Regions from separate parts of the Homo sapiens genome. Here region 1 is linked to region 2. Evidence: fine-mapped expression QTL. A gene starts in region 2. The other region holds a variant in brackets. All regions are shown on one strand. Distances are from middle to middle. Region 1 overlaps MAD1L1 (mitotic arrest deficient 1 like 1). Region 2 holds the start of INTS1 (integrator complex subunit 1).

Region 1 (15,907 bases), 320 kb after region 2:
TACAGCATAATGAAATTTGCCAGACGCACCCAAGGCAGTGCTTAGAGGGAAACGGACAGCACTCAATGCCTGTATCAGGAAAGGAGAAAGATCTCAAATCGCTTCTCTAAATTCCTACTTCAAGAAACGAAGGGAAAAACAAGCCCGAAGCAGGAGGAGGAAATAATACAAGTAGGAATGAACAGGAAAACAAAAGTTATTAAAACCAAAAACTGCTTCTTTAAAAAATAGCAATAAGGCCGGCCAGGAGCAGGGCTCACACCTGTAATCTTTGCACTTTGGGAGGCCAAGGTGAGAGGATCACTTGAGCCCTGGAGTTTGAGACCAGCCTGGACAACACAGTGAGACCCCATCCCTATAATCAATCAGCCAGGTGTGGTGGCATACACCTGTAGCCCCAGGTATGTGGGATCACGTGGGCCTAGGAGTTTGAGGCTGTAGTGAGCTATGATCACACCACTGCACTCCAGCCTGGGCAACAGAGTGAAACCCTGTCTCAAAAATTTGTTAGAAAGACCAGCAACGATAAATTGATAAACCCCTGGCAAAACTGACAAAGATTAAAAAGGGGGAACGCCTGTAATCCCAGCACTTTGGGAGGCCGAGGTGGGCGGATCACGAGGTCAGGAGATCAAGACCATCCTGGCTAACACAGTGAAACCCCATCTCTACTAAAAATACAAAAAATTAGCCGGGTGTGGTGGCGGGTGCCTGTAGTCCCAGCTCCTTGGGAGGCTGAGGCAGGAGAATGGCATGAACCCAGGAGGCGGAGCTTGCAGTGAGCCGAGATCGTGCCACTGCACTCCAGCCTGAGCAACACAGCGAGACTCCATCTCAAAAAAAAAAAAAGGGGGGGGGGAGAGTGAAATGACCAATATCAGAAATGAAATGGAAATATTATAATAGATCCAGAAGCTATTAAAATAACAATAAAAAATACTACAACAAAACTTGATGCTCATAACAAACTGGATGGATTCCTCGAAAACCACATACTACCAAAACGTGCCAAGATAAAATAGCCTCGGTAGTCCTATAACCATTAAATAAATCAAGTTTGTTCTAATTAAAATGCTACTCAAAATCTCCAGTCCCAGATGGTTTCACTAGAAAGTTTTACCGAACATTAAATATGAATTAATACCAATTTTACACAATCCTTTTTCAGTTAACAAAAGACAGAGAAACACCTTTCCACTATGAACCCTGTACTGAAACCAACAAGGATGGTGCGCACACAAAGAAAAATAAGTATCAGTCTCTCATGAGCTTAGCTGCAAAAATACTCAACAAGGACTAACAAATGGAATCCAGCAACACACGAAAAAGAGTATCACACCCTGACCAAGTGGGATTCAGTTTAGGTGTACAACGACGGCTAGTTCAAATTTGAAAATCAATCAATGTTATCCACCCTATCAACAGGCTAAAGGAAGACAATGATATGATCCTATTGGCACAGGCAAAGCATTTGAAAAAATTTAATCTCCATTCCTGACAAGAACTCTTGCAAAGCAGGAATCAAGGGAAAGTCCTCCGACTTGGTAAAAAGCACCACGAAGAACCCTCAGCTCACGCTGCTTCACGGAAGAGTCTGGCCGCCTTCCCTCATTCGGTCAGCGGAGAGCTGGCTTTCCCCACTCATCCTCAACCCAGCATGGGAGCTCCTCACGCCAGGGCATGCAGGTAAGAAAAGGAAAGCAGCAGCATAGGGATTGGAAAAGAACAGAACTGTCCCTACTCGGAAATCACATGACGGCACACGTGGAAAACCCTAAGCAATCTGCAGAAAACTCCTAGAATGACGTGACGGCCCACGTGGAAAATCCTGAGCAATCTGCAGAAAACTCCTGGAACACTAAGTGAGTCCACGAAGGTTGCAGGAAATAAGATGAACATACAAAAATTAACCACATTTCTATAAAGCAATTGCAAACAAGTGAAAAACAAAATTAAAAGGCAATATAATTTACAGAACATCTTAAATACTCGGGTATACATCTAACAAAAACTTGTATAGTGTCTGTTTGCAGAAAGTTAGGAAATACTGATGAAAGGAATCGAAAGGAATAAAAAGAATGTTTGTATAAATAGATACAATGTTTATGAACTGGAAGACTTATAGTAAATCAATTTTTCCAAAATTGATCTTTGGTTTTAAGGTAATTGCTGTCCAAACCTCAGCATATATATATATATTTTTTTTTTTTTTTTGGAAAGAGGGTCTTATTCTGTCACCCAGGCTGGAGTGCAGTGGTGTGGTCTTGGCTCACTGCAGCCTCAGGCAATCTTCCTGCCTCAACGTGCCAAGTAGCTGTAACTACAGGTGCGCACCACCACTCATGGCTGTATTTTTTTCATAGAGATGGGGTCTCCCTGTGTTGCCCAGGCTGGTCTCCCAACTCCTGGGCTCAAGCGATCCTTTTGCCTTGGCTTCCCCAAGTGTTGGGATTACAGGCGTGAGCCACCATGCCCGGCCAGCATTTTTTTTTTTTTTTTTTGGTAGAGAGACACAAGATTATTCTAAAATGTATATAGAAAGCAATTCCAAAAAAGAAGAGTAGAGGAATTGCCCTTCCTGATGTTGAGAACCGTACAGCTACAGCACAGCGTTATACGGCTCCTACGTCAGACAGACATGGCTGGGGCAGCGCTGGAGGGGAGATGTGGAGACCAGCAGAACAGAACAGAGGAACTCGAAAGAGACCCACAGACGCGTCCAGGCCACTTTCTAACAGAGAATATTATGCCGTGACCAAGTGGGACTTCGTTTAGGTGTACGAGGCTAGCTTGGTATTTGAAAATCAATCAATGTAATCTGCTATATCAACAGGCTAAAGAATAAACAACATATGACCCTATTAATCGATACGGAAAAGTCACAGAAAAGTCACAAAGGCGCTTCAGTGGAGGAAGGGCAGCCTTGTCTTTGCTACAGCTGGAGCCGGAGGAGCTGGACACACTTAGTTAAAAAAAAATTTTTTTGACCGAAACCTCACATCTCAAATAAAATTTAACTCAAACTGTATCACGAACTTACATGTAAAACACAGAATTATGTTAAAAAAGAAATCTTCAGGATCTGGATGAGGCAGAGCTCTGACACTCAACACCAAAGCACAATCCACAGAATAAAATTAAAATGGATAAATGGGCCTCGCCAAAATTTTAGGAAATTGCACAGTGGAAGAGCCTGTGAAGCAGATACAAGGATAAGCTACACGACAGGGCGCCAGCGTCTCCCTGCCCATCTCTCCTAGAACGCCACGGCCACAGGGGACCCTGGCACCTGGAGGGGTGACTGCAGCGTCTTAACCCCAAGTGGGATTCCTGCCTGTGCCCTGGCCCCACAGGGCAAGGCCCACATCTGTCTTGCTTCTCTCTTTTCCCAGAACAGACCTCACCAGGCTGGAGAGTGGCCTGGGCACAGAGGCCGGGCCTGTGGCATCAGCGGCCATCGTGAGGGCAGAGCGCCCAGGCATTCTCAGACACACCCCTGCTCCCACTGGCCTTCCTGGGAGAAGCACCCCCTTGTTCCAGATGAGAAGCCGCAGCTGCTGGGCCGGGGGAGGCATGAATATTTCATGCTTGGATCTGCAAGCGCCACGCACCTAACTGGACACAGCTCCAGGCGCCTGCTTCCCTGAAGCCCAATCCTCCTGTCATTGGTGTGCTGCAAGCGCCGCTCCGGAGCAGGGCTCTGTGTGGGGAGAGGAAAGGAGCCCTCGGGGGAAGTTATGCTGGGAGCCCATTTGTGGGGGGACGGAGAGCGGGAAGCAAGGTCCATGAGGATGGGGTGTCCTGCAGCTGGGTCCTGACCGGGGGCTGCTCCCTCTCCTGGGCCTAGGCACTGCAGGAAAATGGCAGGTAGTCAGCCTGCCACCACCTCCCGGCCACCAGCACACACCCTCAACAGACCTTCCAGATAGACGGCTCAATCCTGACTTGAGCACTGCCGGCCCCAACGCCTCCCCTCTTACACCACCTGCTTGTGCGGGCCTGGTGGCAGAGCTGCCGACATCGGGGGCTTTCGCACCCACCAGAACTAGCTTCTAACCTCGGCTTGGCCACCAGGAAGCTGCGTGACCCTGGGCACACCGACACACCTCTCTTGAGCCTGGTCTGCACGCTGGGCATTGCCGAGAAGACTAACGAAGTCAGGTGCGTAAAATCACCGGGCTCAGGGGAGACACAGAGCACAGTGGGATGAGGAAACCCTGTGCCCACGTTACCCCGGGCCATGAGGACAGCAGCTGCCCCGTGCCCTGGCGCCATCGGATGGCCTCTACTGGGAAGTGAGCTGCTCCCGGCCTTGTCCCCACCTCGCTGCAGCAGGACTGGTTGTCTGCCAGGCCCCGGAGCCCCCAGGCTTCCCACAGAGGCTCCCCCACCAGGACCCGCGGGAGAGGAGAGGGGCGTGCCTGGATGGCATCTGCCGGGGCAGCCATAGGTCCCTGTGAACCTCGCTTGTAGAATACACCTGCTCTCAAAGCCAGCGAAGGGGAGATTTTTTTTTGTCTTGAGGCTGTCAGGAAATCAAAGTGTTTTCAACTTCAAAAGACTCTCCGGGCGTCTCAAGTTGAGAATCTGACGCGTCCCAGGCACTTTCATGCACACATGGGGCGAGCCGGGGAGAAGACTCAGCAGCGTCCGCCGAGAGTCAGCCCTGAACTTCAGGGGTGAGAAAACCCTTCAAGTTCACACTGCAGCACGACACACACTCTCACACCCACACTCACAGAGTGCAAAAGGACTCTTAGAAAATCAAAATGTTAATGGCGGTTAACTCGGAGTGCTGGGACGGAAAGTGACTCATGGTTCTCTGCATTTTCCAGATTTTTTTATATGCTGCATATTTGTAATTAGGAAAAATGTATATCTAAATTATATCTGCAAGAGCGGAACAGCTTCAAGACAGGCCGCTGAGCACACGGGTTCCCCACTGCGGACACATGCAAGCCCCAATCCTTATCCACCTGGCCTGCAACCCTCGGGCGTCTTGCTCATCTGCCCGTCTGCCTGGAGTGTCTCCAGACACTCTGTGGGAGGCCCCTCTGTGGGCTGCTGAGGCCGGTGCTGCCCACCCACCTGCCCCAGATGTCCTGGGCCTGGGGTGCCAGGCTGGCGTCATGGCTGGCATCTTGGCTGGTGGCACCACAGACGCCAGGCGTGGGTCACAGCGTGAGCCCAGCCAGCTGGTTGGGGTGGGTGGCGCTGGTCAGGTGGCCACAGCAGAGTCCGCTGAGGCTACCTGTCATAGGGCTGCTGCTGAGGTGTGAGAGACACGGGCCCAAGCCCCTCGGCACCCAGCGGCCAGGGCACCCAGGTTGGGCTTGTGCAAATCCCAGGTGGGGCACAGCTCTGTCCACGGGTCTTTGCGGTGCCCGTCTGAGCGCCTGTGAACAGTGCTGGGCAGTCTCACCATGCACACAGCTCTGCACGAGCCTCCACGGCCAGGGCTGCCCTCCCTTCCCTAAAACGTCTCAGGGGCTGAAGGCCTTGGACCATGGCATCAGGGTCCAGAGGTGATAAACCTGGGTAATGTGTGCTCTCATCCCAGCAGGTGCTGCTGGGGGTTAGAGGTCAGCACAGTCCCAGCCCCGGGGTTGGAGGTCAGCATAGTCCCAGCCCTGGGATGAGCACAGTCCCAGCCCCAGGGTTGGCGGTCGGCACAGTCCCAGCCCCAGGCGGGGTTGGAGGCCAGCACGGTCCCAGCCCCAGGGTTGGAGGTCGGCGCGGCCCCAGCTTGGCTTCATGACCTCGGCAGCAGTGATCTGTATCCCAAAGTTCAGGCGTGATAACGTCAAGACCGTGCTGAGCCTGCCGGGTACAGCGTGAAAATGGCTGGTGCTACCGTGGTCTACGCAACCTGTTAGACCGGGATACCGAGGACTCCTGGCAGCCTCACAACTCACAGCTGGGCTCTGCACAGGAGTCTCAGGTGCTGTGGGGCCAGCCTGCCTGCTGCACATCCACGGCCCGAAGGTGATCCAGGAGCAGCAGCCACCACCGAGCCCTGACAGTCACTGCCTGGCCCGTCCGCGCTCTGAGGAGGGAGAGAGCAAGCTTCTCGCTGCTGGTGTATTACCTCGGCCGAGGGCCTCCTCCTCCAGGCTGGCCACAGGACTTGTTACAGCCTATGCCTGACTCCCCCGCTCATGGCCTCACTCCCTCATGGATGCCCATGGCCGGCCCAGCCCCACCCTGCACAAGCCCTCCAGCTCCAGGCCCAGCCCAGCTCAGCTCCGCGGAGCTCCTGGTCCAGAGGTCCAGGTTTGACCCCAGGACACCCTGCTGTGTGCACGACCCTCAGCTCCCACCCCTCTCTGCCCCACTGTCCCTCCGGCGTCCCTCGGGGGAGACGACACAGCCGGGCCCAAAAGAGGCCTCGCAGATGCTGCCGCGTGAGCACCGCGCTGAGGGCCTGGCGGCAACTGGGTCAGGACAGCTTGGACAGAACGCCGAGAACAAATGTCCCGGCATGAAGTTCCAAAGAACGGAAGCTGGCAAAAAGTGTGTCCGGCACGGGGAAAATAGCTCAGCCAATTATTCCTGCCTAATTGTACCGAGGAAAGCATCTAAATACTGCCTGTGCTAATTATACCAGCGTTATTGGGGTTTATCTTCCCGGCGAGGGTGACCTTTCCTTCAAGAGTGACTGGCGGGGCGGGCAAGGCCAGGCACCCCAGCAGTCGCAGAAAAATCCCAAACCAACAATTATTATTATTATTATTCTATTTATACAGCTCCCCCTCGCACACGGGCGTTCTGCTTTACAGCCACACGCAGCTGCTCCTGCAGCCGCAGCCGGAGGGGAGCCGAGGGAGTGGGGGCGCCGGCTCGGGGTGGGGCGGCCTGCGCAGCCCCTGCTGTGAGTGGCATCCGCCACGGGCGGCTCCAAGGGCCGTGGAAGGGCATGGAGGCCACAGGGATGAGTTAGAGGAGGTGGCGGGGATGGAGAAGGTGGGAGAAGGGGCTGAGTGTGGGTTAAAAGACAGGGACTGGCCCCGAGGGCAGCAGGAGCACAGAACACAATGAAGGTTAAGGGAAGAAAGGGGACGCAGCGGGCAGGGAGGACAGGTGCTCAGATCAGGCACACGGGTGAGGAGGGAGGAGCTGCAGCACAGCCCTCGCCCAGTGGCTCCCTGAGCCCCGCCCAGGTGTGGGGTCCTCCCCTCCTGAGCCCGTCGCGGGTGTGGGGTCCTCCCCTCCTGAGCCCGTCGCGGGTGTGGGGGCCTCCCCTCCTGAGCCCGTCCCGGGTGTGGGGTCCTCCCCTCCTGAGCCCGTCCCGGGTGTGGGGGCCTCCCCTCCTGAGCCCGTCCCGGGTGTGGCATCCTCCCCTCCTGAGCCCGTCCCGGGTGTGGGGTCCTCCCCTCCTGAGCCCCGCCCGGGTGTGGGGGCCTCCCCTCCTGAGCCCGGCCCGGGTGTGGGGGCCTCCCCTCCTGAGCCCGTCCCGGGTGTGGGGGCCTCCCCTCCTGAGC[CCTG/C]CGTGGCTGTGGGGTCCTCCCCTCCTGAGCCCGTCCCGGGTGTGGGGTCCTCCCCTCCTGAGCCCGTCCCGGGTGTGGGGTCCTCCCCTCCTGGGCCCGGGCTAGACAGCACCACCCTTTCCAGATGTAGCCGAATGAGAACAGGAGAGGACGTCAGCGGCCTCTGCGCCTTCTCACCTCCCACCCAGGCGAGGCCCATGCTGCTGGCAGTGACGTTTCGTGGAGCGCCACGCTTAGGGCAATGTGATGCTGGGGATGCGGGGTGAGGAGGGCCGGAGATGCAGGCCCGCCCTCCTGTGAGGCTGCCCCTCTTATGTGCTGTGGGCCCCGGGGCCCATCAGTTTGTCTCTCTGAGCTGAAGTTTCCTGAATGTAAAATGGAGACAAAATGCCTATTTTCCCACCTCAGAGGGCGGCCGGCAGCTTCCGGCCGAGACAGAGCCACAAGGACAGATGCACCTGCCATCTGAAACAGCCAGAATATGAGGCATCAAATGTGAAACAACAGTTTTCAGTCAGGAAGGGTGGCGGGCCCTGAGAGACGGGGCGAGCCTGGGGAGACAGTCACAGCCCAGGCAGGGCCTCGCGGGACCCGAGTTGAGGGACAGGGCTGGAGCTGGAGCCAGGGCGCCGAAAAGAGTGCCACAGAGGAGGGCTGAGTTCGCTGGAGTGCTCAGTGAGAGGCTGAGAAAACCTGGAGCATTAGAGAGAAAAACCCAGAAAATGGCACCCGAAGCTCACACTGGGCTGGACCAGTGCCTGTCTCCGGCAGCCTCGCGGGAAAGCCTGCGAACTAGGCGGCTCCAGGGCACAGCACTGAGATGGACACCCCGCAGCAAGGGGCGGTGTGAGCCCCAGACAGACGCTGCCCTGCTCCCACCTCACATTTCCTAAACCGAGACCCAGAGAACCAGGCTGTTTCCAAGTACCTGAACTGTGTCTCCGAACAGAGCTCACGAATATTTATAGGAACACACACACACGTGCATGCACAGGCACACGCACACATGCACACACAGCCTCGCAGCACTCAACAAAGAGAAAATCAGCTGAGTGAAACAGACCTAGGGCTGACCTGACGTCAGAAGCGGCAGATCACATTAAGTCACTGTAACTTTGCTCCATATGCCCAAAAAATTGAGGATAGACATAAAAGGGACAAAAAAGAGCCAAATTGACCTTCTAAGGATGAAGACAACAAGTACGGGGGACGGATCCATGCCAGATCAGACATGGCGAAAACAGGATCAGTGAAGCTGCAGATACAACCACGGAAACCGTCCGAGATGAAACAGATGAGAAAAAGAAAGAAAAGCGCATACAAACAAAAAGGAAAAAACGGAAAGACAGACATAAAGGAGGCAGCACATTGGGCGTGGGCTGTGGGGCGACGTCACATGGCCTGACACGTAGGGCAGGAGTCCTGGAGGCAGGCTGGTGGCACTTCTGAAATGGCTCCTGATGGTCCCCACCTCCAGGCACCACCCGCATCAGCGCCAGCCCTTCAGCGTGACTTACAGCGGATGCAAAGTGGGGCGCAAGTGCTGGCTTCCCCTCTGCAGTCACGTCACAGCAGCCGTGACTTCTGCGGCTCCCACCCTGGTTCTCAGAGCTCTGACCCGCCAGCTGCCATGCGTGAGCGGCCCACACGGCGAGGAGCTGCCATAGGACCAAGCGCGGCAGCCCAACCACGGATAGAAGCAGAATCCTTCCGACGGCCACATGGGTGTACCTGGACGTGGGACCTTCCCCAGCAGAGCCAAGAGGACTGTGGCTGGTGAGGTCTCTGAGCAGAGAGCCAGCTCAGCCACACTTGGATTCCTGACCCCAGAAGCCACGAGCCAGTGAGTTCTGCAGCGATGTTATTCAAGGACTGGTTGCCAGTGGTGGGGACAGCAAAGAGTCTTGAAAAAGTAGTGGCCCCAATTTTCTGAAATGTGTGGAAAAGTGTAAACTGAGAGATCTGAGAAGTTCAAAGAACCCCAACCACCAAAAAAAAAAAAAAAGGCAGGGGGAGGAAACAACATTAAAGTACACAAAGTACATCATAATCAAACTGCTCAAAACCAGTAGTACAGATGAAATCTTAAAAGCAGTCAGAGGAAGAAATGACAACTGACCGACAGAGGAACAAAGATGAGAATGACAGCAGACTTCTCAGAGGAAATACTGGAATTAAGAAGACAGTGAGATCACCTCTGTAAAGTACAGAAAGACAAAGCCCAGAATTCTCCACCCAGTGGAAATATCTCCCCCCAAATAAAGACTTCTTCAGGTGTGCAAGAGCTTAAAATATCCCAAAAAGCAGCTGATTCACACTGCAAGAATATTAAAGGAAGCCCTTCAGACAGAAGGAAAATGAGGATGCAAACAGGGGCTTACACAACAGGCCAGGCCGGTGGCTCACGCCTGTAATCCCAGCACTGTGGGAGGCCGAGGTGGGAGGATCACCTGAGGTCAGGAGTTCAAGACCAGCCTGGCCAACATGGTGAAACCCTGTTTCTACTAAAAATACAAAAATTGGCCACGTGCAGTGGCACATCCCTGTAATCCCAGCTACTCGGGAGGCTGAGGCAGGAGAATCGCTTTAACCTGGGAGGCGGAGGTTGCAGTGAGCCGAGATCGTGCCACTGCACTCCAGCCTGGGCGACAGAGTGAGACTCTGTCTCAAAAAAAATAAATAAAAATAAAAACAAACATGGGCCTACACAAGAAGAAGGAAGAACAGCTCTACTCCTTCCATGAATGAGGGGTGGGAGCTGCATGGGCAGACATATACAACATTTACAATTATTATTTACATCTCTTTCAAAGATAGCTGACTAAACAGAAATAAAAACAAAGTATTGTGGGGTTTATCATGTGCATAAATAAAATATATTATAAGCAGATGACTAAGGCAGGAAGGAGAAGACTGGAAGTATGTGACTGTCAGGTTCTCACACTACACATAAGGCGGTGTCGTATCATTCGAGGATGACTGTTAAAGATCTACGTGCCCTAAATCCTAACACAACCTGTAAAAAATACAGTTAACAAATCAAAAAAGGAGGCACATGAACTTGTAAAAAATTCAATCCAAGAAAGGCAGAAAAAGAGGGAAGAAAAAAGAACAAAGGACAGACAGGACAAACAGAAAACAAATAACAAGATGATAGACTTATCTAATCAAAGTAGTAATCAATTTAAATGTAAATGGCCCAGTGAAAAGGCAGAGAATGTCAGATTCTATGCATATTTAAGACTCAGCTATATCCTGCTTTTAAGAAGCACATTTTAACTATGAAGACGCAGTAGATTAAAAGTAACGTGAAGCAGATACAGCGTGCTCACAGAAGCCAATTCGCCCTGTGTTCACATGAGCACACCTCGCTTCATCCGTGGCCTGACTGTGCCTCACAGACACTGCATTTTTTACAAGTTTAAGGTCTGTGTCTGGCAAGTCTATTGGCACTATTTTTCCAAAAGCGTGGATTCACTTCATGTCTGTGTCGTATATATTTCCAACTTTTTCATTACTAGTATATCTTTTATGGTACTCTGTCATCTGTGATCTTTGATGTCACCATTGTAATGGTTTCGGAGCTCCACAAACAGTGCCCATAAGAGAGCAAACTTAACTGATAAATGTGTGTGTTCTGACTGCTCCACTGACCAGCCATCCCCCATCTCTCTCCTTCTCCTTAGGCCTCCCCATTTCCTGAGACACGACCGTCACAACAATATTGAAACCAGGCCCATTAATAACCCTAGAATGGCTTCTAGGTGTTCAAGTGAAAGAAGACTCACATGTCTCTCACTTTAAATCAAAAGCTAGAGATAATTAGGTTTAGTGAGGAAGGCATGTTGAAAACTGAGGCCAAAAGCTAGGTCTCTTGCACCACACAGCTAGCCTGCAAAGGAGAAGTTCGTAAAGGAAATCACAAGGGCTATTCCAACGAACACATGAATGATAAGAAAGCAGAACAGGCTTACTGCTAATATGGAGACGGTAAATGAGCTCTTGGGGCCCTTAAGAATGATGCTAAGTCTTCTCTGTCTGTGCTCTATCAGTGGAACAACAAAGCCTGGATGACAGCACATCTGTTCAAACGTAGCACAGTGCACTGAATATTTTAAGCCCACTGTTGAGACCTCCTGCTCAGAAAACAAAATTCCTTTCAAAATATTATTGCTCACTGACAATGCAACTAGTTACTGGGCTCTGATGGAGATGAACGTTGTTTCTATGACTGCTAACACAGCATCCATCCTGTGGCCCCTAGATCAAGGGACAATTGACTTTCAAGTGTTATTATTTAAGAAATACATTTTCTAAGGCTATAGTTGTCACAGAGTGCTTCCTCTAATGAATCTGGGCAAAGTCAACTGAAAACCTTCTGGAAAGGAGCTGTCATTCTAGATGCCATTAAGAACATCAGTGATTTATGAGAGGAGGTCAAAGTATCACCATTAACAGGAGTTTGCAGAAGTTGGTTCCAACCCTCATGGATGACTTGGTTCAAGAAGAGGTCAGTGGAGGAAGATGGACAGATGTGGTGAAAATAGCAAGAGAATTAGAATTAGAAGCAGAGCCTGAAGATGTGACTAAACTGCTGCAATCTCATGATCAAGCTTGAATGGATGAGGAGCTGCTGCTTATGAATGAACAAAGAAAGTGGTTTCTTGAGATGGAATCTGCTCCTGGTGAAAATGCTGTGAACATTGTTGAAAAATGACAGCAAAGTACATCAACTTAGTTGATAAAGCAGTTTGAGGGGTTGAGAGGCTTGGCTCCAAGATAGAAAGAAGTTCTACTGTAGGTAAAATGGTTTTAGAGAGCATTGCATGCTACAGAGAAATCTTTCATGAAAGGAAGAGTCAATCAATGTGGCCAGCTTCATTGCTGTGTTTTTTTTTTTTTGGCGGGGGGGGGGGGGGTGGGGATGGAGTCGTGCTCTGTTGCCCAGGCTGGAGTGCAGTGATGTGATCTCAGCTCACTGCAACCTCCACCTCCCAGGTTCAAGCGATTTTCATGCCTCAGCCTCCCAAGTAGCTGGGATTACAGGTACGTGCCACCATGCCCGGCTAATTTTTGTGTTTGTAGTAGAGACAGGGTTTCACCATGTTGGCCAGGCTGGTCTCGAACTACTGGCCTCAAGTGATCCACTTGCCTCAGCCTCCCAAAGTGCTGGGATTACAGGCTTGAGCCACAGCACCCAGCCCACTGGTGTTTTTAAGAAACTGTCACAGCCACCCCAACCTTCAGCAACCACCACCCTGATCTGTCAGCAGCCATCACCATCAAAGCAAGAACCTCCACCAGCAAAGAGATTACAACTGGCTAAAGGTTCGGGTGATCATTAGCATTTTTAAGCAATAAAGTATTTTTAAAATCAGAACATGTACATTGTTTTTTAAAGACATAATGCTATTGTACACTTGACAGACTATAGCATAGGATAAACATAACTTTTATATGCACTGGGAAACAAAATGCATGGCACTTGCTTTATTGTGATATTGGTTTAATCACAGTGATCTGGAACCAAATGCGTGATATACCCAAGGTTGCTTACTGACAGTGCAACTCTGTATCAAACAAAGCAGATTTCAGAGCAAAGAATATTACTAGCAATAAAGGTCATTTCATAATGATAAAAGCGTCCATTTATATATGAAACAAAAACTGGAATGCAAGAAGGAATAGAGAAATCTGTAATAATAGTCAGAGATGTCAATATTCATCTATCAATAACTGATAGAACAGGAAGACAGAAAATTGGCAAGGATATAAAAGCTTCGCAAACATTATTAAAAATGTCAGCTACTTGACATCGATATAGCACATTCCAGCAGGATACAGGATACACACAGATTTCAAGTACACACACAACATTTACCAAGGCAGTAACATTCTGGATGGACCTTAAAACAAATTTCAAGAAATGTGACCAGATGCAGTGGCTCACGCCTGTAATCCCAGCACTTTGGGAGGCCGAGGCAGGTGGATCACCTGAGATCAGGAGTTCGAGACCAGCCTGGCCAACATGGTGAAACCCCCTCTCTACTAAAAATACAAAAATTAGCCAGGCGTGGTGGCACGTGCCTGTAATCCCAGTTACTCGGGAGGCTGAGGTAGGAGGCAGGAGAATCACTTGAACCTGGAAGGCAGAGGTTGCAGTGAGCTGAGATTGCGCCATGCACTCCAGCCTGGGTGACAGAATGAGACTCCGTCTCCAAAAAAAGTAGAAGGATTTAGACCGTTCCGAGAATGTTCTCTGACAATAATGAAATTAAATGAGAAATTAGTAACAGAACGGCATCTGGAGATTTTCAAAAAATGTGGAAACTAACACACTTCTAAATAACCCATACGTCAAAGAAGAAATCAAAAGGGAGGTTAGTTAAGTCATTTGAACTGAATGAAGATAAAAACAAAATATCAGAATTTGTGGGATGCCACTAGAGCAGAAACTAGGGGGAAACTTATAGCACTGAATGTCCACATTAAAAAAAAGAAGGTCTCAAATCAGAGACTTCAGCTTCGACCTTAAGGAACTAAAGAAGGGCAAATTAGACAAAGTAAGCAGAAGAAAGAAAATAAAGATCAAAGCAACAATGGTGAAAGAAAACAAAAAAGCAGTAGAAATAATAAAACCCAAAGCTGTTTCTAGCCAGACTGACCTGGAATAAAAGAGAAGAGACAAATTATTAACATCAGGAAGAAGAGGGATGATAGCACTACAGATCCTACAGATGTTAAAAGGATAGTAAGAGAAATTATGAACAACTTTATGCCAATACCTTTGAAAACAGATAAAATGGACAAACTTCTGAAGATACAAACTACTAAAGCTCACCACAAAAGAAAAAGACAATGTGAATAACTCTATGTCTATCAAGACACCGATGTGTAGTTAAAACCTCAGGAAGAAAACTTCAAGGTTCAATGGGTTTACCGATGAATTGGATCAACTATTTAAAAAAGAAATAATATCAATTCTACATTAACTCTTTTCTTCCAGTTTGTTTTAATCAAGAATTCTACATGAACTCTTTAAGAAAACTGAAGAGGAGGAATGCTTTCCAACTCACTCTGTGAGACCAACATTACTATGATATACAAATCAGAAGACATTACAAGCCGCACCCCCCCAAAACTATGGAACAACCCTAAGGAATATTTATGCAAAAATTCAAAACAAAACGGTTAGCAATTCACATCCAATAACATATAAAAAAAGATAATGTAGTATGACTAAGTGGGGTTTATCCTAAGAATACAAGGTTGGTTTAACCCTAGAAAATCAAAGTAATTCCACATATTAACAAAGTACAAAAGGAAAACCATATGATCAACTCAATAAATGCAGAAAAAGCATCTGATCAAACCCAACAGGCATTCCTCAAAAAAAAAAAAAAAATCTCAGCAAACTAGGATTAGAAGAGAACTTCCTCAGCCTGAGAAAGGGTATCTATGAATGACGTACAGAGAATACCACACTTAATGGCTGAAGATTGGATGCTTCTCCCTCAGATCTGAAACAGGACAAGGATGTTCACTCTCACTGCTTGTATTCAGCATCATCCTGAAGGTTCCAGCTAGTGAAATAACACAAGAACAAGGAACTTCACAAGCATCCAGTGTGGGCAAGTGGAAGTGCAAGTGTACTTACAGATAATATCATTGTCTAAGGAGAAAATCCCATCAGATATACTAAGAAGCTACTGGAACTAACACATGAGTTTAGCGAAGTTGCAAAATAAAAAGATCAATATACAAATGAATTGTTTTTATATAGTAGCAACAGAAATTAAATGTAAAAACAAAACTCTTTTATAATAATATCAAAATCTAAAATACTTGGGATAAATCTGAAAAAGATGTGAAATACCTATGTTATCAGGAAGGGGTCTCAATCTAGACCCCAAAAGAGGGTTCTTGGATCTCACACAAGAAAGAATTTGAGGTGAGTCCATACAGTGAAGTGAAAGCAAGTTTATTAGGAAAGTAAAGAAACAGAAGAATGGCTACTCCATAGGCAGAGCAGTGACGTGGGCTGCTCGACTAACACTTATACTGTATTTCTTGATTATATGCTAATGAAGGGGTGGATTATTCATGAGTTTTCCGGGAAAGGGGTAGGCAATTCCCAGAACTGAGGGTTCTTCCCCCTTTTAGACCATATAGGGGAAATTCCTGACATTGCCATGGCATTTGTAAGCTGTCATGGCACTGGTGGGAGTGTCGTGTCATATGCTAATGCATTATAATTACAGTATAATGAGCAGTGAGGATGACCAGAGGTCACTTTCTTTTTTCTTTTTTTAAGACGGAGTCTCACTCTGCCGCCCAGGCTGGAGTGCAGTGGCGCAATCTCAGCTCACCACAACCTCCGCCTCCTGGGTTCAAGCAATTCTCCTGCCTCAGCCTCCTGAGTA
Region 2 (15,907 bases):
GAATCCTCCTGTTCCGAGTGACTCGCTCCGGTCAATGGCTTAGAGGGCTTCTGCGGCCCAGCCTTCCTGTGAACCCATAATCAAACACCCGGACTGCCCCAAACACCACCTCCCCTCCCCACTCCCGCCCGTGGCTGGGGCCACCACGCCTGCAATGCCCCCATGCTGGGCCAGAACTGGAGCACACAAAGGACGCTCATGGGAACAGGGTCTGAGCCTGCAGCTGGGGTGAGGCCCGGATGGACAGGAACGGGGACGGCAGCTTCCAGGCTCCGTGTCCCCGAGTAGCCGTGCTGCGGGACCGCTCCTGCCGGGCGCTCAGGGGACAGTGCAGCCTCGGAGAGCCGCCAGCCACCAGCCTGGACCCGAGACCCCCACCAAGCAGGGCCAGGCCACCCCCACATCCTTACTCCTCTTTTCTCCTTTGTCCCAGGCGATGCCGGCCTCCTTCACCTGCGCTGTGATGCCCAGCATCATGGACACGGCCAGGACGTCGGTGATGTGCACCACGAAGCGCTCCTGCAGGTGCAGCACGGGGTCTGTATCCAGAAGGGACACCCGGGAGCCCCACTCCACACCCACGTGGGCGCGGCACGGGGTCTGTATCCAGAAGGGACACCCGGGAGCCCCACTCCACACCCACGTGGGCGCGGCACGGGGTCTGTATCCAGAAGGGACACCCGGGAGCCCCACTCCACACCCACGTGGGCGCGGCACGGGGTCTGTATCCAGAAGGGACACCCGGGAGCCCCACTCCACAAACACGTGGGTGCAGCACGCACACACTTGCACATGCGCACACATACACACACACAAGCAGGGATCCAGAGAGAGAGCCCAGGACCAGTTGGGAGAGGGGCCTGACAGGAGGGGCACCAGGGCCGGTGGCCCACAAGGTCCTAGTCTGGCCACAGGAGGGAGGTTCAGTCAACAGAGATCCACAAAGCCCCGTCCGCAAAACAGGCCACCCCGGCAGGCTGGCTGCGAGTTGGCTGCAGGGACCTGGCATCTCTGTGATCCACCCTCACTGTGCCTTCCAGCGCCAGCTCCCTCCACAGCCCTCGAAAAGTCTCCAACCCAGCCAGGCAGCCCGCAGCCCCACCCTGCCTCCCTGCTCCCGTGCTCCCCTTGCTGCCGGCAGCAATTCATCCCATCCAGCCTAGGGGTTGCCAGTTCCCCTGTGCTTGGTCAGCCCCTCATAGGTCCTCACACAGGACAGAGCCTATGCTACCCTCTGGGACGCGTCACCGCAAACAGCCTCACTCATCCCCGTACCCACGCTCAGCCAGAGCATCCGAAGGGGTGGAGTGTGCATGGGACCCAGGACGAGGGGGATGGCGGCGCGTGGAACCCGCAGTGAGGGAAAGGCGCCCCAGCGGCGAGGGCTGGCACCTTGAACTCCATCTCCAGGTACTGCGGCTCCTTGCGCTCCTGCATGAGCCCCAGGCAGAAGGCCTGGAAGTTGATCTCGTGCTTGGTCTGCTTGATGATCTCCCGCAGCAGGGCCCGCGAGGCCCGCAGGTAGTCGTCCTTGTTGGTCAGCAGGTCCTGGAACACCATGGCCAGGAACTGGGGCAGAGAGAGGCCGCGTGGGAGGCTGCCCGACAGTGCTGTCCCTGTCACAGGCCCCTTCCCGCAGCACCAACAGGTATGGCGCCCGAGGGCGCTGCAGTGGGTCTCAGACAGTGTGGGGTGCGGGGTGGCGGGCTCCTTGCTCTACTGGCTGCCAGCCCTTGGCGAGCAGGGATCACATCTGATTCCCCTCTCTGAGAACCGGCAGGTGGGGAGTCGGTCCTCGTGAAATGAGGAGGATTAATTAACGGAAGCTGGGGGTGCGGGACACCAGGCGGCAAAGCCATAGAAGCGCGTGTGCCATCTCAGCCCACCCGTGCGCCACGGGCTGAACGGAAACCAAAGGCCACCACCCAAGATCTGAAAGGATCTGAAAGGACGCACTCCTGTCTCAAAATGCCAGGCCGCGAAGACTGAACGCGGAGCTGAGAGCGGCTGTGCCTCCCTCGTGTTTCACACTCCATAGAGCCCACCGGGAGGCCTAATGCGCTGGTGGCGATGGGAGCATCTCCCGAGCCCGCTTCAAAGGAGACACGGAAATCCAAGGGTCCTACAGCCAGGGCTACAGGGACCCCTGCTTAACCGAGGGACCCAATGCACAGGAGGCGGGTCTGGGCCAGGCACAGGGGCTCATGCCTGTCATCCCAGCACTTTGGGAGGTTGAGGCAGGAGGATCGCTTGAGCCCAGGAGTTTGAGACCAGCCTGGGCCACATAATAAGACCCGGTCTCCACAAAATTTTTAAAAACTACCTTACTATCCAAAGGCAGGAATGAGCTTGAAAAATAAAAACAGAAGGCAACAGGTCTGGGTCTTAGCTCAGAAACCTGGGTGGCTTTTAAGACTCAATGTGGCTCCCTCCTAAATGGACAGAGTGTCAGTTTCTGAGAAAGACGCTGGGCGCTGTGGCTGCACCCACTCTAGAAACGGCTCAACCTCATGCCCACGTGAGTTTCAAAAGCTCCTTCCCGAGACCGAGGAGCATTCTCCCACGAAGCACTGCCAATCCACCGGCCTCCCCAGACGCCACGTGCCCCTCCAGCCCAGAGCCCCATATTCCGGCGTGGAGGGCAAGGCCAGGGACCCTGGGCCTACCTTGGGCGCCAGCTCTGAGCTGTGCTGCAGTGCGGTATAGAGGACCTGCATGTTGTTCGGGTTCCGGGCGCTGGAGAGCTCATTGAAGATCACCAACTTGATGGTGGTGCCCAGGTTGTCCTTGTGCGCGCTCAGCAGCTCCCTGGGTGAGGTGAGGGTACAGACCCTGTCCCCGCTACGCCTGTGCCCCCACTCCGCCTGTGCCCCCACTCCGCCCGCACCCCCGCTCCGCCCACACCCCCACCCACACCCCCACTCCACCCGCACCCCCGCTCTGCCCCGGCTCGCCACGCACCTGATGCACAGCATGAAGTGGTTGAGGAGGACCTTGGGCTTGAGGCGGATCTTGATCAGGTGTGAGATGACGTCCATGTCTTCGGAACCGTGCGTGTTGCAGTTCATGCAGACGGACATCAGCAGGTCCTGGGCCGGCCGGGTCAGCTGCGGGGCCGAGGAGGGAGCAGTGGGCTCACGGCCACCCCGGCAGGAAGACCACGCTGTGGGGCCACACAGAGCCTGCCCCCACCCCCTGCCCCGCCCACCCCCCCGGGGCGCCCCCGCACCTTGGGGTTCTGCAGCCACATCTCCAGCTTCTGCACCGCCAGCAGCCGCACCTCCTTATAGCCGCAGGTGGAGGTGAGGAGCCGCAGGAGGTTCCTGGAGACGTTGTCGATGGGCTGGCGCCGGTTCAGCTGGTCCCGCAGCATGTCCAGGACATACTCCTCCACGCTCTCCGCGAGCTCTTCGTACCTAGGCCAGAGGAGGGAGCGAGGAGGGAGGAAGGTGGCCCCGAGGCGCCCGCCCCCGCCGCCCCCAACTGGGACCGGGCAGGCACGCAGCTACCTGGGCATGAGCTGGCCCTCCTGCTCGGGGCTCAGCTTCTCCTCCGCGATCAGCAACTCCGTCTGGCTGTCCTCCTCCTCCGTGAGGGAGGGGTGTGGGCTGCTCCCTGCAAACCAAGGAGAGGGCTCCATGCAGCGCCTCCCACCCGCCCATCCTCCCACCCCTCCCCTGCCCTGGGGCTTGGACACCCGCCCTCTCTGGCTGGCCGTGTGTCTCACCTGCACCCAGGTCGCCCGCAACGCGGCCCGCCTCCCCCTGCAGCAGCACGCTCCTGGGGGGCATTCTGGTGTTGAAGGCCGTCTGGATGTTGTCCACAAACGTCTTACAGTGAGGGCTGTCCACCCAGATCCGCTCCCCCAGGGAGTCCTCGATGTACACCTGTGTGGCAGCCACACCCTCAGCCCCGAGCCCAGCCGGGCAGCAGCCAGGTTGGGGAACACCCGCCTGCTGCCCGGGGACTGGGTGCCCAGGCGGCCCTCTCCAGCTTCTGGGTGCAGCAGGGACCGTGCCATCACCACCAGGGCTGTCAGACACAGCCCTCTGGAGAGAACACACTTCTGCTTTTCTCTCGCCCCTGCCCCACCCCGTGGCGCTCTGCCATCTTCACCGTCCCGGGAGAGGACGCTCACCTTGACAAAGATCTCGGGCCAGTTCTCGTCCTCCTCGTAGGCGGCCATGAGGAGGTTACAGGCCAGCACAGACACCAGGCTGTTCCCCTTGGCCTTGAAGTTGATGGAGGCGTCCCGCCGCAGGAGGCTACACAGAGCCTGCCAGGGAGGGCGCATGTCACGTGGGAGCTTCGCTGGCCCCAGAGGCAAAGCTGGGGTGGGCCGGGAGGGACACTTAAGGGGGAGGTGAGGAGGGGAGCCAAGGGCCCCAGCGCTGCTCGCCTCCTGCCAGGGGCCCGGCTCAAACCTCAATGACGCCCTCAGTGGCGAAGATGTTGGGCTTGATCTTGGCCAGGTACATGAGGCTCAGGTAGAGGGTGCTGTCAGGCTTGGCGCGGGTGACCTTCAGCTGCTTCACGGCCCCGCACAGCACGCCCTCGATCCTGTCATCGTTGCCCTCCAGCTCGGCCGCCTCGATCTCATCCAGCAGCACCGTGGGCAGCACTGGCCGGGGCAGGCGGTACGGTCAGAACGGGGCCAGGGCAGGGTCACCCCAAAGCCTCGGGACACCGGGAAGACCACGAGGAACCCAGAGCTCTCAGGGTCGGCCCTGCCAGGGACCAGCGATCCACCCTCAGCAAAGTTCCCACAGCGGACAAGCACCCCACCAGATGGTCCCCTTAATACAACAGGCTGCCCCACAGGCCTCAGCACTAGCCCACCAGCCACTCCAGTCCTGGCTCCGCTGTGTCCCACACGACTACCCCAAAGGCTACAGACATTTCCCAGCAAGCCAGGCCACCTGCAGCTTTACTTTCCACTGAATCGTGGCTCCGTCTGGCGGCTTCTTTCTCACTGTGGACCGCAGCACAGTGGCCCTCTCTCCGCACCCACCCCAGCTCCAGTCTCCAGCATGCCCTTCTTCCCACTTTTCCTCCCTCTTTCCATGGGTGCTCGGCTCACAACCTTCCTCCAGACGAGTGCCTGACCCTCCCACATCCTCTGAGGAGCACCAGGGCCAGCACACACCTTTCCTATCGTCGTGTTTGCCACTGTTGGATCGGAGGTTTTCTCATTTTCATTCTGATTCTTCTCTGTCCCAACAGTTTTTTAGGACTGTGTTTTTAAATATCCACAAACGGCCAGGTGCAGTGGCTAGCACCTGTAATCCCACCACTTTGGGAGGCTGAGGCAGGTGGATCACCTGAGGTCAGGAAATCGAGACCAGCCTGGCCAATACAGTGAAACCCTGTCTCTACTAGAAATACACAAATTAGCCAGGCGTGGTGGTGCATGCCTGTAATCCCAGCTGCTTGGGAGGCTAAGGCAGGAGAATCATGTGAACCCGGGAGGCGGAGGCTGAAGTGAGCCGAGATCGTGCCACTGCATTCCAGCCTGGGGAACACAGCGAGACTCTGTCTCAAAAAAAAATAAATAAATAAATAAATAATAAATAATAAGTAAATACATATCCACACACATGTGGACAGAGGCATTGTGATCTACCTTAACTGCGCCCGGGACAGAGACTTGGAATAAATTTCCTGATGCCGAGACAAGCTGGGGGACAAGTGGGCTGCCAGCATGGAGGGACAGCCTGGGACATTTACCACAAATGGCTGGATGCAGCCATCTCTCTGTTTTGCTGAGAATAATACTATAAAGTGATCTACCACTCAGAATACGCTTTTCATAACCACGTCTCCTCTCATCTTCAAAACCTCCTTTCTACAGGAGGTAGTGCTAAAGATAAATAAAGCACCGAGCCGCCGGCGGCCGAGAGCCCGGGCCAGGATGAGGCCTGTGGTCTCTGTCTTCAATCCCCACCGGCACCAGCTGCCCAGGGACACGCCTCATGGGAGGTCTGAGGCTCGACCTCCTAAAGCAGTCCCCCAGCTGTGCCATCCTGGGCCGTTTGCCCCCAGGGCTCCCTGATGCCAACTGAGTCCAGCACAAACACTGCCCACAGCGCCCAGCCTCAGCTCTCATGAGCGTGTGCTGCCCAGGCCAGGCCAGGCCTCCATTCCCTGGGCACAGTCCATTCTCTGCTTGGCATCTCCCTTTCCTGCCTGCCCCGGTTTCATCGCCTGTGCTTCCAGGCCCAAGCCCATACTGCAACTCCCTGCCAGGCCTCCTCCCTTCCAGGGCCGTCGGGGACTCACTCACAGGCTTGCACTGCAGCAGCCTGGTCCCTCCCTGAGGGCAAGGCCACAGCCCACAAGTCCCCTGGGTCCTGTCTGGCACAAAACTCAGTAACCAGAGGTGGCGCGGCTTGAACAGACACCTCACTACCAAAGTCATCAGGACACTTGTTCTTTTTGACTCCTACAAAGAAATTACCCAAAAGAGATGCTCCCACAGAAACAAAACACTGCAGACCATGAGGCTTGCTGGGGCTGGTGCGATAGCTGCCAGAGCGACTCCCAGGGAGTCACGGAGCCTTGAGAAATGGTCGTTGGGAAAATGGCGCAGAGGGGCAGGGGCGATTCTAGGCACACAGTTAAAGGCATTTCTGCGAGAACGGGACAGTGGTGAAGCTTACATTCCCCCGTTGATGTCCTTACTGTTCTGCTGCTTTTCAACTGAAAACAGGGAGGGGATCAACTCTTCTCTGTTGGTAACCAGGAGGGAAGGAGGAACCAAGTACACATCGCCTCCGCTCAGGTTGAGAGAGGAACGCACCAGGATGGGCAACCTTGAGAACAGACACCTGGGGTGTCGTCACGCCCGGTTTACCCCCAGGGCTCAGACAGTGCCCGTCACAAAGGGGGCGTCCAACAGACACATGAGACAAACAACTCAATAAGGGAGTGACCCGGTTCTCAAAGGGCAGCCACTGGCAGTGCAGGACGCAGATGCACACACGGGATAAGGGCATCTACGTGAGAAGCACTTCCAAGAACAAGCCACAAACATCCGCTCTCCCAAAGGACCTCGGCCATACGGGCAGCACTAGGCCTGGAGGGGGCCTTCCCTGAACACCTGATGGACGGCATGAGCTGAGGGGTGTTCTCGGGGGATGTCCACAGACTCATTACCTTCAATTGGCACCACAGATGGCTCTTTAATCGACGGAGAAATGGCTCGTTTTTCTGCCACTGCAGCCTCAGCCAGGCGCCCCAGGGCACTCAGAGGGGGTGTGGAGGAGAGTTTGGGGCGTTTGGTGAGACCGGTGAGGGCCGAGGCACTGGACAACGCGGCCGCCGCATCCCGCTTGCGCTCAGAAGGCAGGCCGGAAGGGGCTGGCTTCAGCAGGGTGGACGCCGTTTTCGATTCATTGGCCTGACCCTTTGAGCCCAGAGCAATGAAGTCTCCTGGGGGAGGGTGCCCTGCAGAGAAAGGAGAGAGAAAACCGGGCACATTTGCAACACCCAAGATGGAAAAAGACTGACTCTAACCTCCTGTTATGTCAGAGGGGATTAAACAAGGGTCAGAGGAGGCAAGGAAGAAGCCAGAGCTCACTCAGCAGCCTACAGCAGAGCTGGGACCAGCAGGATACGCACAGGTGATGGTGGACAGTCACGTAGCGCTAACCACAAACCAGGCCATCTCTGGTCTATCCAAATTAGTGTGCTTAGTAACCCCCGCCCCGAGTTTCCGCAATAGGTGCTATTACTCTAACTTTACAAGAGAGAAAGGGACACAGAGAGGTTAAGCGACGTGCCCAGCGTCACACAGCAGGCGAGTGGCAAAGTCCGGAGGATCTGAGCCGACAGTTCAGCCGCAGACCCCGTGCTACGCTACACTGTGCTGCCTCCCGCCTCCTGGCTGGGGAGACCTTCCGCTACTGTCGGCCGCCTTGCAGCTCAGCCTGAAACGAGATCACCGGGGTCCCGAAGGAAGTCGCCACTGTCCCAAGCCTCCCAGGGACTCTCAGAGCCGCTGAGGACCGAGAGCAGTGTTTCCAGACCGAATTCCTGGAAACAGCCGCGGCTGCGGAACAACCAAGCCCAACGCAGGATCCGCGGCAGCTGAGATCCCCAAAGACCCCCAAAGACCCCCAAAGACCCCCGGGCTGCAGAGCGAGGAGGGAGACGCACCTGAGGGTTTGGCCGCGGCGCTGGGCCGGCGCACCGTGGTGGGCTTGGCCCGGTTCATCCTGCCCCGTCCCTCGCGGCTCCCGGCGGCTGCGGCGTCACCTGCGGAGGAGCCAGCGTGCGGTCATTCCTTCACTCATTCGCTCGTTCGCTCGCTCATTCGCTCCCTTGCCGCACGGGGCTTGGGCCTGGGACCCGGGGACAGTGGTCCCGCGCCCGCCCGGCGGGGCGATGCTGCAGGAGCTGCAGGGACCCCGCCTCCCAGCCGCCCGGGAGCGGCTCAGTCGGGCGGCAGCAGGCGACGCGGACGCCGGGCTGGAGGCGGCAGAACCAGAAGGGACGGCCCAGAGGCCGGGAGCGGTAGCCGGGAGAACCAGGCGCTCGCCCGGCAATGAGGAAGCGCCCAGGCCGCGGCTCACTTACCTCTGGCCCATCGCGACCGGAGCGCCGCCGCCGCCACCCGGCCACCCCGGAATCGGAAACCGATCTCACCGCCCTCGAGGACCCGACTTCCGGAACAACCGGAAGGAAAACAGTGCGGCGGGAAGCGGGCCCAGAAGGAGGCGCGAGAGGCCCGCGGCGCCGGCCTGATGCCTGCAGCGCCCCATGGCGGCGGGAGGCGGGCTGGCCGGCGCCGCGCGCATGTGGTCCGGTCCAGGTGGGTCGGCGGCGCGGGGCAGGCGCTGGCCTCTCCATTCACAGGTGGTGCTGGCGTTGCGAAGGGACGCACTCCAGGACGCACGGCGGGGAGGAGTGGCGTCAGGGATCCGCGGATGAGTCAAGTGGCAGGTTCTGCACGTCCCGGAGAGCGGGGGCGGCCGGGGCGCAGGCACTGGCGAGGGGGCGCAGCCCGGGGGGCTCCCGGGGAGAGACCCTGTCTCAAATAATAATAATAATAATAATAATAGCTTTATTGAGATAGAACTCGTGTTCCACAAAGTTCACCCTTTTCTTTTTTCTTTTTTTTTTTGGCACGGAGTCTCGCTCTGTCGCCCAGGCTGGAATGCAGTGGCGCGACCTCGGCTTATTGCAACCTCCACCTCCCAGGTTCAAGCGATTCTCCTGCCTCAGTCTCCCGAGTAGCTGGGATTACAGGCGCCCGCCACCATGTCTGGCTAATTTTTTTGTGTTTTTAGTAGAGACGGGGTTTCACCATGTTGGCCAGGCTGGTCTCGAACTCCTGACCTCAGGTGGTCCGCCCGCCTTGGCCTCCCAAAGTGCTGGAATTACTGCGCCCGCCCCGCCCCCACGCCTTTTTTTTTTTTTTTTTAATGGAAACACTGATGGGAACAAAACTCAAAAGACACAAAAGATCATACAGTTGCCAGGTGTGATGCTCATGCCTGTAATCTCAGCACTTTGGGAGACCAAGGCAGGAGGATCGGTTGAGTTCGAGACCAGCCTGAGCAACATAGCAAGACCCCCATCTCTACAAAAAAATAAAAATTAGCTGGGCATGGTGGCATGAACCTCTAATCCCAGCCCTTTGGGAGGCCAAAGTGGGAGTCTGAGACCAGCCTGGGCAACATAGTGAGACCCTATCTCTACAAACAAAAATCAAGAATAAATTAGCCAGGCATGGTGGTGCATGCCTACGGTCCCAGCTACTGAGGAGGCTGAGGTAGGAGGATCTCTTCAGCTTGGGAGGTCAAGGCTGCAGTAAGCTATGATGGTGCCACTACGCTGCAGCCGGCCGACAGAGCGAGACCCTGTCTAAAAAAAAATAAAAATAAAAGGTGGGGGAATCATCCAGTCAAAGGGTCGAAGGTCTCCCCTGACCCCTGAGCAGCTGGTCCCCTCCCCTGGAGTCAGCCTGTGTTCTGATTTGTGCCTGTGTTCCCGGCTTTTCCGTGTGCGTTCAGGCAGCCACCCGTGTGCCTCCCTCTGCCTTGTCACCCTGCAGGTAGCGCACGGCTCCTCTTTTCTGCACCTGGCTTTTGCCACTTAACCACATCTTGGAGATCTGTTCCCAGCAGGGCACTGACTCGAACGCTGCCCCGCCACCGAGGGAGTCCTGAGCACCGCCTGCCCGGTGTGTCCCATCTCCTCATCCAGGGACCGCAAGGCAGAGCTGGTCTCCCTGTGCCCCTGAAGTTGGGTGTGGCCATTTGACTGTGGCCTCAGTGAGGCTCATGGCCCCAGGCTGCAGCCTGAGAACTGCTGTGTGACCCGCCACGGTCTCTTTCCACTCCTGTGGGCACCAGCTGGGTCCCCGCAGGACCCCAAGGGCTCCAGGGCCCTGCACCCTGCGCTGTGTGGGCAGCGAGTCCGGAAGGAGACGTCCGTGGTGCCCATGGGAGGAGAGGCCGGTCAGGCGCGGATCCCTGCCGGACGCCAGGCGGGGGCTGTGCGGCTTCATCCCTCTACAGTTTCTCAATCTGTCCCTCAGGGTAACTCTCTAAGGGGAGGGGAGATCCGATGGGGTAATGCTTCCTCCTCCTGTCACCTGAATGGGAGCACCCTGCACAGAGCTTCCTCTGCCCCGCCACCTGCCTCTCCTCATCCTCTGACCAGCATCACCGCCCCTGCATGCGGGGCCTGTGCCTTCGGCAAATGCCCTCACCCGGGCCCAGGCCAGAACCTCAGGGTCGACCTTGAGAACAACTACCTCCTCCTCCCCCTCCCCCTCCCCCTCCCCCTCCTCCTCCCCCTCCTCCCCTTCCTTCTTCTCCCCCTCCTCCCCCTCCCCCCTCCTCTCCTCCTCCCCCTCCCCCTCCCCTCCTTCCCCTCCCCCTCCTCCCCCTCCCCCCTCCCCTTCGTTCCCCTTCTTCTCCTCCTCCCCCTCCTCCCCTCCTCCCCCTCCTCCTCCTCCTCCTCCTCCTCCTCCTGTCAACCTTGACCACCTCTTCCCCCTTCTCTCTCCTCCTGCTCCTCGTCTTCCTCGTTCTCTAAAAACTCAGGAGTCAACCTTGACCACCTCCTCCTCCCTCTTCTCTTTCTCCTCCGTCTCCTTCCCCTCTTCCTCTTCCTCCCCCTCCTCTACCTCTTTGCCTTCCTCCTCCCTCTCCCCGCCTCTTTTTGAAAACAGCTTTTTTGAGTTATGATTGACGTCTGATAAACTGCAGGTGTGTAAAGGGTGTAAAGGGTGCACACTGATGCGTGTTGACATTCACACGTACCTGTGGCCCCATCCCCCATCCCTTTCAACCCTGTAACGAACATTCCCAAACCACCCCTGACTTGTCCCCAGGCCGCCAGGGCGCCACTTTCTGTCCCTGGAGAGGCGCTGTTTGCTCTTCTGGAGTCTGTGTGAATGAAAGCACACAGTGCACGCTCCCTGGCCAGCTGCTCGGCGTCATTATTCTTTTTTTTTTTTTGAGATGGAATCTCGTTCTGTCACCCAGGCTGGAGTGCAGTGGCGCGATCTCCGTTCACTGCAACCTCTGCCTCCTGGGTTCACGCCATTCTCCTGCCTCAGCCTCCCGAGTAGCTGGGACTACAGGCGCTGGCCACCACGCCCGGCTAATTTTTTTTTTTTTTTGTATTTTTAGTAGAGGCGGGATTTCACCGTGTTAGCCACAACGGTCTTGATCTCCTGACCTCGTGATCCTCCCGCCTCGGCTTCCCAAAGTGCTGGGATTACAGGCGTGAGCCACCGCGCCCGGCCTGGCATCATTATTCTGAGACTTACCCCAGCGTTGCAGGCATCGGTGGCTTCTGTCAGCTGCTGAGTAGCACCCGCCAGATGGATTCCAGATTCCAAGGATGGCTTCTCCACTGATGGCCCGGGCAGGACCACAGGCGTTCCGTCATCCTGGGGGGGTGTGCAGGGTCTGCCCTGTGCTCTTCATCGGCGTCTCCCTGATGAGTAATGATGAGCGTTTTCTCATCTTTTTTTGTCATCCGTGTATCTGCATTATTGGTGTCTGTTCAAATTGTTTGCTCACTTTTTGAAAATATTTTTTATGGCCAGGCGCGATGGCTCACGCCTGTAATCCCAGCACTTTGGGAAGCCGAGGCGGGTGGATCACCTGAGGTCAGGAGTTCAAGACCAGCCTGCCCAACATGGTGGAACCCGGTCTCTACAAAAATACAAAAATTAGCCGGGCATGGTAGCAGACACCTGTAATCCAGCTACTTGGGAGGCTGAGGCAGGAGAATCACTTGAACGTGGGAGGCGGAGGTTGCAGTGAACCAAGATCATGCCATTGCCCTCCAGCCTGGGCGACAAGAGTGAGACTCTGTCTCAAAAAAAAAAAAATTATTAGAAATTTAATTTTTAGGCCGGGTGCCGTGGCTTTTAATCCCAGCACTTTGGGAGGCTGAGGCAGGCGGATCACCTGAGATCAGGAGTTTGAGACCAGCTTGGCCAACATAGTAAACCCCATGTCTACTAAAAATACAAAAATTAGCCAGGCGTGGTGGCGGGTGCCTTTAGTCCCAGCTACTTGGGAGGCTGAGGCAGGAGAATCACTTGAACCCAGGAGGTGGAGGTGGCAGTGAGCCAAGATCGTACCACTGCACTCCAGTCTGGCCAACAGAGCGAGATTCCATCTCAAAAAAAACAAAAAAACAAAAAGATATAATCAAATGTTCCTCCCCTGCTCAGAATTCTCCAAAGACTCTGCTTATCACCCGAACAGTAAAATGAACACCTGTGGTTGTTTCCCACAGCAGCTCTTAACAAAGCACCACAGACTCGGTGGCTTAAAGCCACAGAAATGTCCTCTCTTGCAGTTCTGGAGCCCAGAAGTCTGAAGTCAAAGTGTGGGCAGGGCTGACTCCCTCGGAGGGCTCTAGGGGAGGACGCTGCCTACCTCGACCAGCTCCTGGGGACTCCAGGGGTCCTCGGCTCGTGGCCACATCCCTCCAGCCTCTGCCTCTGACTCCATGTGGCCGTCTTCTCTCTGTGTCTCTGTGCCTCGTGAGGACATCTGTTAAGGGATTTAGGGCCCACCCAGATCAAGGATGATCTCATCTCAAGATCTTTACCTTCATTAGGCCTGTGCGGTGGCTCACGCCTGTCATCCCAGCACTTGGGGAGGTTGAGGCGGGCGGATTGCTTGAGGTCAGGAGTTCGAGACCAGCCTGGCCAACATGGCGAAACCTTGCCTTTACTAAAAATAGAAAAAAATTATCCAAGGCCGGGCGCAGTGGCTCACACCTGTAATCCCAGCACTTTGGGAGGCTGAGGCGGGCGGATCACGAGGTCAGGAGATCGAGACCATCCTGGATAACACAGTGAAACCCCATCTCTACTAAAAATACAAAAAAATAGCCGGGCGTGGTGGCAGGTGCCTGTAGTCCCAGCTACTCCGGAGGCTGAGGCACGAGAATCACTTGAACCTGAGAGATGGAGGCTGCAGCGAGCCAAGATCGCACCATTGCACTCCAGCCTAGGCGACAGAGCAAGACTCCATCTCAAAAAAAATAAAATAAAAAAATAAGTTTATATCTGCAAAGACCTTGTTTGCAAATAAGCTCCCATCCTGTGGCTCCGGTGGACGTGGGCTATGGGGCCACTGTTCGCCCCGTCCCAGCCCCACGCCGAGGACTGCCGGGTCCTGCAGGGTCTACATCTCCGTCTCACCTCCCCCGATGCCGCCCCACCCCGCACCTCAGCCTTCTCACTGTTTCCGGAAGGTGCCTGCCTTTCCATGCGCTGTTTCCTGTGCCCAGAAACCCCCCAGCTGGTCCTGGGACTCCCTGTCCACCCCATTCTGGTCTTTGCTCAAGTGGCCTCCTTCTCTGGTCAGTCACTGATGCCCCAGTCCCCTGCACCTGGATGTCACCTTCATGTCTTTTTTTTTTTTTTTTTTTTTTGAGACGGAGTCTCACTCTGCCACCCAGGCTGGAGTGCAGTGGTTCAATCTCAGACCACTGCAACCTCCGCCTCTGGGGTTCAAGCGATTCTCCTGCCTCAGCCTCCCAAGTAGCTGGGATTACAGGCACCTGCCACCACGCCTGGCTTTTTTTTTTTTTTTTCTGAGAGTCTTGCTCTGTCGCCCAGGCTGGAGTGCAGTGGTGTGATCTCTGCCCATTGCAACCTCCACCTCCTGGGTTCAAGCAATTCTGCCTCAGCCCCCATCAGGAGCTGGGATTGCAGGCGCCTGCCACCATGCCCAGCTAATTTTTGTATTTTTAGTAGACATGGGGTTTCACCATGCTGGCCAGGCTGGTCTCAAACCCCTGACCTCAGGTGATCTGCCTGCCTCGGCCTCCCAAAGTGCTGGGATTACAGGCGTGAGCCACCACGTTCAGCCACATCCAGCTAATTTTTATATTTTTAGTAGAGATGGGGTTTTGCCATGTTGGCCAGGCTGGTCTTGAACTCTTGACCTCCGGTGATCCACCCACCTCGACCTCCCAAAGTGCTGGGATTATAGGCATGAGCCACCGCGCCTGGCCCTTCCTTCATGTCTTTTAAAAAAATGTTTTAGAAACGGGGTCTTGCTCTGTTACCCAGCTGGAATGCAGTGGTGTGATCATGGTTTACTGCAGCCTCAAATTCCTGGGCTCAAGCGATCCTCCTGCCTCAGCCTCCCAAGTAGCTGGGACCACAGGTGCACGCCCACCCCTGGCTGGTCTTTTCCCTGCCTTCCTGCCTGACAGAGCCACCAGCAGAGCCTGATCTGCCCAGTCCCCTGCTGGGTCCAGGGTGGCTCGCCATGTTCAGTGAGAGCCCGTGGACAGGTAAGTGATAACTGTGAATTCTCTGGGGGGAGGAAGCCAGTGCTAAAAGCCTAGGCTGTTAGGAGAGCTGGGCCTCAGCCTGGAGGGACGCCGTCGGGCAGGCAAGCCCAAGCCTCTGACTCCCACCATCCCGGGGTCCTCTTTGCTGTGACCCCAGAGTGCAGTGAGTACCAAAGGTGACCCTGTCCTAGCAGGACCCAACCTCGTGACCTGATCAGTGTGGCAGGTTTGGGCTCCAGGGCACCACTGCGGCCCCCCAAGACCCACCAGCACCAGGGGCTGGGGGCGGCTGGCAGGGTGGGGGCAGGGGGAGCAGAGGCCCGGGTCGGGCCCGAGGGGAGACGGGTGCGGTGGGCAGCCTGCAGCTGCGTGTGGTTTAACTGCCTCGTGCCAGGAAGCAGCTGCCGCTCTCTGTGCAGCCTGGGCCTAGACCGGGGGCTCCAGCCTCCCTTCCTGGACCAAGCGTACCCAGCGCAGACCAGGCCTGGCCTTCCCGTTACACACAGGGGCCCTTGTGGGGAACCTGCGGCTCTTCTCAAGTGACCCCCATCCTGGGGGCCCAGCCCCGGCTCCTCCCTGAACCTCCCTGAAGCCTTCCTTCCCCATCCACCCCCAGGCTAGCCCCTGCTAGGAACCTGGGCGCCCACTTTCTCTACCACCCCCTGGCTGGAACCCCAACCTTGTATGGGGCTCCCATAGGGTGCAGCCCCAAAGACAGACCCACGTCCAGAATTCCAGGTATCCCAAGGACCGGTCAGGCCACTGGCCACTACACTGAGACTCGGGACAGCTGGCCAACCTGGTGAGAGCTCAGCCTTCACTGGCCACCGCACTGAGACTCAGGATGGCTGGTTTCCTCGGGGAGAGCTCAGACCTCGCTGGGCACCACATTGAAACTCAGGACGGCTGGTCTACTGGGGAGAGCTTGGACCTCGCTGACCACTGTGCCGTGACTCAGGGTACCTGGTCTACCGGGGAAGAGCTCAGACCCTTTGGCTTCAAAGAGCGGGGGCCAGTCCCGGTTCCACCCCCAGGCTGCACAGGAGAGAGGTGAACCAACAAAGAGAATCGGGAGCCGTGAGGAAGGGGAAGGACTCTGGGAGGCCCATACCCCCAACAT

Evidence for each region.
Region 1: its variant is fine-mapped to the expression of INTS1 in monocytes after interferon gamma (Fairfax 2014, PIP 0.95).

Annotation. Positions count from the first base shown.
Region 1 is chr7:1,820,245-1,836,151 of GRCh38, forward strand. The region is part of intron 18 of MAD1L1 (mitotic arrest deficient 1 like 1); the gene reads right to left. Among named protein-coding and RNA genes, the nearest start is that of MIR4655, 16 kb to the right of the region's middle. The variant CCTG/C (reference allele first, on the strand shown) is at 7,482.
Region 2 is chr7:1,495,746-1,511,652 of GRCh38, forward strand. INTS1 (integrator complex subunit 1) reads right to left here and starts at 8,644. Exons shown (of 48, transcript NM_001080453.3): 1 at 8,578-8,644; 2 at 8,158-8,256; 3 at 7,156-7,446; 4 at 4,425-4,621; 5 at 4,139-4,276; 6 at 3,728-3,887; 7 at 3,510-3,615; 8 at 3,230-3,416; 9 at 2,962-3,107; 10 at 2,667-2,808; 11 at 1,393-1,569; 12 at 411-519. The coding sequence starts at 8,215. RefSeq lists silencers at 8,290-8,849, 15,089-15,138 and enhancers at 9,736-10,332, 9,958-10,147, 10,333-10,928.